2 linked regions of the Homo sapiens genome follow. The protein of the gene in region 2 purifies or fractionates together with the protein of the main gene of each other region. This does not show direct contact. Each region holds a gene or a part of one and is shown on either strand. Other genes may lie near its edges. The genes, in order: MYH7 and ECD.

Region 1 (3,914 bases), on a different chromosome or scaffold from region 2:
GTGGGGCAGGGCTAGGCAAAGTGAAACGGGGGCTGCATTCCCATCCTCGCCCTGGAAGAGGCTAAGAGCAAACTCTTCATTCTCCTCAGCTGGTTGTCACTGTGGCTATGGTGCCAGGGCTCTGCCTGGAGTCACCGCCCGTCGCACCTGGTAGGTGAGCTCCTTGATGCGCCGCTCGCTCTTCCTCATGCCCTTCACCGACTCTGCGTTGCGCTTCTGCTCGGCCTCCAGCTCATTCTCCAGCTCCCGCACCCGCGCTTCCAGCTTCTGCAGCTGCTTCTTGCCGCCCTTGAGGGCGATCTGCTCGGCTTCGTCCAGCCGGTGCTGCAGGTCCTTAATGGTCTGTTCCATGTTCTTCTTCATGCGCTCCAGGTGGGCGCTGGTGTCCTGCTCCTTCTTCAGCTCCTCTGCCATCATGGCGGCCTGTGTGCAGGAGAGAGGTGGCACATGGTCTGGTCAAGTCCTCACACACTTGCTGCCCAGCCCACGGAGAGACACTGGTCTGGATCGGGTCGGTGGAGTGGGGGACTTACATCCGTGATGGCCTTCTTGGCCTTCTCCTCAGCATTCCTGCACTCCTGCACTGCCTCCTCCACTTCAGTCTGGAGCTGGGACAGGTCAGCATCCATCTTCTTCTTCTGGTTGATGAGGCTGGTGTTCTGGGTTGGGGGAGGGTTGGGCAGAGCAGGAAAAGCATTGAGCATCTATGCATAGCTCTCAAGCCTTGCTTGCTGAGCCCCAGCCTGTGCTCCCTTCAGGAATGAGCAGGGGAGCTGCTCACCTGGGAATGCAGCAGCTGCACCCGCTCACTAGTCTCAATCAGCTCCTGCTCCGCCAGCTTCCGGGACCGCTCTGTCTGCTCCACCACGGCACGCAACTCCTCCAGCTCAGCCTGCAGCAGGTTGTTGCGCCGCTCCACGATGGCGATGTTCTCCTTCAGGTCGTCGTTGGCACGGACTGCATCGTCCAGCTGAATCTGGGTGTCCTGAGGATCAGGAGAGTGGGCATGAGCAGGGAGCCAGCCTCGGTTCCCTTCACTAAAGGCACCTGTCAGAGGTCCCTGCAGTAACCTAGGGGCAGGAGGAATCTGGTGCCTGTATCAAGACACTACTGCTTCGCCAGGCCACGTGGAGGCCAGTCCCCTCTGGGTGAGTACCTTCAACAAGCTCTGGAGGCTCTTGACTTGCTTCTGGGCCTCGGCGGCCATGCGGTTGGCGTGGCTGAGCTGGATCTCCATCTCATTGAGGTCTCCTTCCATCTTCTTCTTCACCCTCAGGGCCTCGTTGCGGCTGCGTGTCTCTGCGTCCAGGGAGGTCTGCAGCGAGTCCACCACCCGCAGGTGGTTGCGCTTGGCCTGTTCCATCTCCTCGTCCTTCTCTGCCAGCTTCCGCTCGATCTCTGCCTTGATCTGGTTGAACTCCAGCTGGGCCCGGAGGATCTTGCCCTCCTCGTGCTCCAGGGAGGCCTGGGAAGGGGTTGGGGGAGGGGATGCAGGCAGACAGTCAGGGCACAGGGCAGGGTGGGGGCCTGCTCACTAATCATGGATACGAAGTGACTTCAAGAGTGGTGTAAGTGGTTCAAAGAAGCAGAAGGTGGAGGAAAAGAGAATCTAAGAGAAAATAAAAATAAGCCTAAGAGAAAGTGATTCAGGCCCTCACAGGGGAGAGCCAGCTATGAAGACAAGGAGGAAAATGAAGAGAAAAGTGTTGCCAAGGAAACAGAGGCAATCAGGTATAGAGTATAAAAGAAAACAGAGGGAGGCAGAGGTGGGAACCGGGAGGTATGTGGAAATGGGAAGCTCAGCTAAGATGCAATGGGTAAAATGTTTATGTGAAGAGAGTTCAGTGACTGGTCATTCATTCACTCCACAAATCTTCACTGAATGCCTACTATGTGCCAGGCTCTGTCCTAGGCTCTGGGGATGGGACAGTGAACAAAACGGACAAAGCGGGGGATGAGAACAGGGACCAAAAGCCTGGAGCTCAGCTCCCTGCACCCCGTGCCCTGCACACACACACACCTCGGCCTCCTCCAGGGCTGACTGCAGCTCCATCTTCTCGGCCTCCAGCTGCTTTCGGACCTTCTCCAGCTCATGGATAGTCTTTCCGCTGGAACCCAACTGCTCAGTCAAGTCGGAGATCTCCTCTGTGTGGGGAACACGGTAACTCGGTTGAGGGCTGCTGAGGTCCAGTGGAGTTGGAGGGACACGCCTCTTTGCCCAGACGCCTCTTGGAGCCCTTGGGTGGCACCATATGGGAACACTGCCAGTGCAGCCCCTCCCCAGCCTCTTGGGCCCCCAGCACACCCTGCAGGTTTTTGTTCTCCCGCTTGAAGGTCTCCAGATGTTCCAGGGACTCCTCATAGGCGTTCTTGAGTTTGAAGAGCTCTGTGCTGAGGGAGCGAGCCTCCTTCTGCGAGGACTCCAGCTCCGACTGCGACTCCTCATACTTCTGCTTCCACTCGGCCAGGATCTGCCCGGGGACAAGGCTCACTCTTCAGCCCCCCAGCCTCAGCCCCATGTCCAGGGTCTGTCTCAGGACCTGCCTGGGCTCAGCCCTCCTCCCCCACCTCCAAGGAGGATGGCTCTGGCCTCTCACTGAACCCCTCATGCCCCCTTGCCCTGCATGCTGGCTGCGGCCCCCACCCAGGGCCCACCTTGTCGAAGTTCCTCTGCTTCTTGTCCAGGGCTGCAGCAGCAGCATTGGAGCGCTCTACGTCCACCATCAAGTCCTCGATCTCATTCTGTAGCCGGTGCTTGGTCTTCTCCAGCGAGGAGCACTTGGCATTAACAGCCTCCACGGCCTCCTCAGCTTCCTGCAGCCGCTGGGCCAGCTTCTTCCTGCCCAGGGGAGGGTGGCAGAGGGTGGGGAGGATGGAGGGTGTGGATGGGGACAAGAGGAAACAACATGAACCTTCTCAAAGACAATCCTTGAAACCTCAGAAGTGTAGCTGGAGAAGCCTGAGGACAGGTCCCAGGGGCCGAGAACATCAGGCAGAGGATCCCAGCAGGGCGTGGAGACCCAGGCACCCTCTGACCCTGGCCCAGCCTCTGCGCTATGGACATTGAGGAGGTATGGGCTTCTGCAGCCCTCCCCACTGCCTTTCCCTGCCACAGTGCCCTGCCCCAGACGGAAGCACTCTGCCCTCAGACAAACCTTTTGTTCGTCTTATATTCGGATCAGAAACATAATTCGAGCAAAAAGCTTCCCTGAGAGGAGAAGGAGGTGGGGCCGGGGCAGAGTCCTCCTGTGTTGTCAAACACTAGCTAAGCATCGCCTGTGTGGGATCTGCTGAGGCTGGGGCTGGGCTGAGTCCTGCCTGCAAAGGGGCCTCAGCCAGAAGTCAGGCTGCTCAGAACTCACTTGGCCTCCTCGAGCTCCTCAGTCCGCTGAATGGCGTCCGTCTCATACTTGGTCCTCCACTGGGCCACCTCCGAGTTGGCCTTGGAAAGGACGCGCTGCAGCTCGGCCTTGGCCTCCGTCTCCTCCTCGTACTGCTCCCGCAGCAGGTCGCAGTCATGCCGGGCCGACTGCAGTGCGTGGGCCAGGGCGTTCTTCGCCTGGGGAGGGGTGGGCACCAGGAGGTGGGTTCAGCTTTCTCCATAAAGCAACCCCACCCTTGCCCTTCTCCTCACCCCAATCTCAACATCATCCCTTGGCCTCATCTATGTCCAAACCCCCAGTGGACCTGTCATGGTTTACTGTTTGCTGATAACAAAGAATGCCAATACAGCAGTGAACTATTTAAGAAAAGCTTCATGGCCATTGGCCCTGAGCTCCTCCCCACACCAGACATGGTCATCATCACCGCCATTTTACCTGGCTGGGGAGAGGGAAACAGGCTCAGAAAGGTTAGGGGACTTCCCTAACCTAAGATCACTGAGCTATAAGAGGCAGGTTAGTATGAACCCTGGA
Region 2 (3,914 bases):
CCTTCTAATTTGTTTTTAAGCATATTTTTAGGTTGCAGATCCCTTTTTCTCAAACAAAACTTTTACCAGGAACTCTAAAATACAGAAGGGGTCAAAGAAAAATGGCCTTCATTAAAGTGGAGGATAGGCCAGGCACAGTGGCTCATGCCTGTAATCCCAGCACTTTGGGAGGCCAAGGCGGGGAGATCACTTGAGGTCAGGAGTTCACTTGGCCAACATGGTGAAACCCCGTCTCTACTAAAAATACAAAAATTAGCTGGGCATTGTGGCACGTGCCTGTAATCCCAGCTACTCGGGAGGCTGAGGCAGGAGAATTGCTTGAACCCGGGAGGTGGAGGTTGCAGTGAGCTGCCCCAGCATGGGCGACTGAGCAAGACTCCATCTCAATAAATAAATAAAATAAAATAAAATAAAAATAAATAAATTGGAGGATAGAAGCTCAGAGATCTACACAATTGGCCTTCCTTTTTGGCTCTGAAGCAGGCTCCATGGAACATCATTATGAAGCCACTGATCTCGTATAATTCTTTCTATACATACATGCAGAGACAGGGTCTCTCTCTATATATGTATATATATGTACATACAGTTGTATTATGTTAATAGTACATATACATATAAAACACGTACTAAAAATACATAAAAATATACATATAATATATATTTTATATACGAGGAAAAGAAGATCCAGAAGGAAAGCATCAATTAAAATTTATCTAGCATGTATTAAATGCTATGCTAACACTTTAAATACATTTTCTTATTGAGTCCTTTTGTTACTATTATAGAAGGTAATAATCCTGTTTTACAGATGAGAAAACCAGAACCCAGGGAAGTTCTTTAACTTTTGCAAAGTCTGTATTACCCAGGAGGCGGAGGTTGCAGTGAGCCAGGATTGTGCCATTGCACTCCAGGCTGGGCGACAAGAGCGAGACTCCGTTGGCCGGGTGCGGTGGCTCACGCCTGTAATCCCAGCACTTTGGGAGGCCAAGGCGGGCGGATCACGAGGTCAGGAGATCGAGACCATCCTGGCTAACACAGTGAAACCCCGTCTCTACTAAAAAAAAAAAAAAAAAAAAAAATTAGCTGGGCGTGGTGGTGGGTACCTGTTGTCCCAGGTACTCAGGAGGCTGAGGCAGATGAATGGCGTGAACCCAGGAGGTGGAGCTTGCAGTAAGCCAGGATCGCGCCACTGCACCTCCAACCTGGGCACAGAGCAAGACTCCGTCTCAAAAAAAAAAGAGACTCCATAAAAAGAAAAAAAATCCTCATTCTTTAAGACTTAACTCAAATACCTCCTCCCTGAAGCCTTCCATTATCTTTCTTTTTTTAACATCTCTGCTTCAACCTTAGTGAAAGTTTATTACCTTCTCACTATGACTCTCTTTAGCATTTGATATTCCAGAATGATTTTTATTTTGCCTTTTGTTATGATTATTTGGTTTATTCTCTCTCCTAGTAACGTTTACATATTAATAATACAGAGTAGAGACAGTTCCCCATCACCTACGTGATTTTGCAAGGTATGCAAATGTTTATCCAATTAAAGCAAGTCCTTTATACAACTTGATTTGATCCATTCTTAATAGTTCAGACAGGGTGCCATCAATTTATGTAACAAATCATGTCACCATTATGTCACTCACTCAACACATAAGTATCTCTGTGCATAGTTTCTTTTTTTTCTTTTTCTAAGACAGGGTCTCACTCTGTCGCCTAGGCTAGAGTGCGTGGCATGATCACAGCTCACTGCAGCCTTGACTCTTGGGATCAAGCAATCTTCCTATCTCAGCAAGTAGCTGGGATTACAGGCATTAGCCACTGTGCCTGGCTATTTATTTATTTTTAATTTGAGTAGCTGGGATTACAGGTGCCCACCACCTCATCCGGCTAATTTTTTGTATTTGTAGTAGAGATGGGGTTTCACCATGTTGGCCAGGTTGGTCTCAAACTCCTGACCTCAGGTGATTCACCCATCTCGGTCTCCCAAAGTGCTGGGATTACAGGTGTGAGCCACTGTGCCCGGCCTATTTGTTTATTTTTAATTGACAAAAAAGTGTATAGGTTTATCATGTACCTTAAAAATATTGTAGAGATGTAATCCCAGCACTTTGGGAGGCTGAGGAGGGCAGATCACAGGTCAGGAGATCGAGACCATCCTGGCCAACATGGTGAAACCCTGTCTGTGCTAAAATACGAAAAGATTAGCCAGGTATGATGGCACGCGCCTGTAGTCCCAGCTACTCAGGAGGCTGAGGCAGGGGCATCGCTTGAACCCGGGAGGTGGAGGCTGCGGTGAGCTGAGATCGTGCCACTACACTCCAGCCTGGTGACAGAGAGAGACTCCATCTCAAAAAAAAAAAAAAAAAAAAAAATTGTAGAGAAAGCTAATGTTTCCTTTGATGACCACTGCCACCCATCCCAATCCATTGTCTTGCTCCCCAGAGGTGACTGCTTTCTCAAGTATACTTCGGCACTTTTCTCTCTCTCTGTATGTATATATATTTCTGTTTCTATTTCTTGTATTTGCTGTCTGTCCTTTTGCTGGAATGTTATTCCCCTAAATAACTGAATGTCTCACTCCTTCACTTCATTCAGGTCTCTTTTCAAAGAAAACTTCCTTAGAAAGGCCTTCCTTGACTAATCTATCTAGAAGAGCAGTCTCTACCCCTCTACCCCACACACTGCTTTTTCTTCATAGCACTTACCACCCCCTAATATTACATAATGGCTTGCGGTCTTTCTCCTACATTAGCATGTAAGCTCTATAAGGACAAGGACACTTTGGGTTCATTTATTATATCCCCAGTACCTGGAATAGGGCCTGGCACATAGGAGGCATTCAATAAATATTTGTTGAATAAATGAATATATATGTATCTATAAATAATGTATTGTTTTGTTTTGAGACGGAGTCTTGCTCTGTCACCTAGGCTGGAGTGCAGTGGTGCGATGTCGGCTCACTGCAACCTCCACCTCCAGGGTTCATGCGATTCTCCTGCCTCAGCCTCCCGAGCAGCTGGGATTACAGGGGCGTGCCAACACGCCCAGCTAATTTTTGAATTTTTAGTAGAGACAGGGTTTCCCATATTGGCCAGGCTGGTCTTGAACTCCTGACCTCGTGATCCACCCGCCTTGGCCTCCCAAAATGCTGGCATTACAGGTGTGAGCCACTGCGCCCAGCCTGTATAGTATTTTGTATATTTAAAATTTTTATATGTGTAACATCCACACGGTATATATTTTATTCTTTTTCATTTTCATTTTTAATTTTTGTGGGTACATAGTAGGTGTATATATTTATAGGGTATATGAGATGTTTTGATACAGGCATGTAATGTGAAATAAGTACATCATGGAGAATGGGGTATCCATCCTCTCAAGCATTTATCCTTCGAGTTACAAACAATCCAATTACACTCTATGTTAAATGTATAATTAAGTTATCATTGACTATAGTCACCCTGTTGTACTATCAAATAGTAGGTCTTACTCATTCGTTCTATTTTTTTTTTTTTTTGGTACCCATTACTGTACGTATTTATAACTTGCTTTTTTTTTTTTTTTCACTGCATTATGTTTTTGAAATCTATTCATTTAGATCAGTGGTTCCCATTTAGATCAGTGGTTCCCAACCAGGGACGATTTTGCCGCCCAGGTACCTCTGGCAATGTCTGGAGACATTTTTGGTTGTCATGATTGGGGGATGAGGGAGAAGTGCTATTGATATTTACTGGATAGAGGCCAGGGATGCTGTTAAATGTCCTATGAAGTGCAAGCCAGTCCCTCACAATAAATTATCAGATCCAAAATGTCAGTAGCACTGAGGTTGAAAAATCCTAAATCAGATATATGTAAATATAGTTCATCTCTGGTTAACTACTAGATAGCAGGCTATCATATAAGTACACTGC

The links.
Region 1: the proteins of ECD (region 2) and MYH7 purify together in Homo sapiens (affinity purification with mass spectrometry; 2 studies listed by BioGRID and IntAct, with this or other methods). This does not show direct contact.

Annotation. Positions count from the first base shown.
Region 1 is NC_000014.9:23,414,848-23,418,761, forward strand, and holds part of MYH7 (myosin-7), read right to left. Parts: intron 3,560-3,914; coding exon 3,363-3,559; intron 3,217-3,362; exon of another isoform or gene 3,140-3,216; intron 2,840-3,139; coding exon 2,656-2,839; intron 2,527-2,655; exon of another isoform or gene 2,472-2,526; coding exon 2,306-2,471; intron 2,162-2,305; exon of another isoform or gene 2,146-2,161; coding exon 2,021-2,145; intron 1,466-2,020; coding exon 1,157-1,465; exon of another isoform or gene 1,154-1,156; intron 986-1,153; coding exon 782-985; exon of another isoform or gene 774-781; intron 660-773; coding exon 534-659; intron 424-533; coding exon 148-423; intron 1-147. UniProt on the Homo sapiens protein: Myosins are actin-based motor molecules with ATPase activity essential for muscle contraction. Forms regular bipolar thick filaments that, together with actin thin filaments, constitute the fundamental contractile unit of skeletal and cardiac muscle.
Region 2 is NC_000010.11:73,140,281-73,144,194, forward strand, and holds part of ECD (protein ecdysoneless homolog), read right to left. Parts: intron 1,206-3,914; coding exon of another isoform or gene 1,107-1,205; intron 1-1,106. UniProt on the Homo sapiens protein: Regulator of p53/TP53 stability and function. Inhibits MDM2-mediated degradation of p53/TP53 possibly by cooperating in part with TXNIP. May be involved transcriptional regulation. In vitro has intrinsic transactivation activity enhanced by EP300.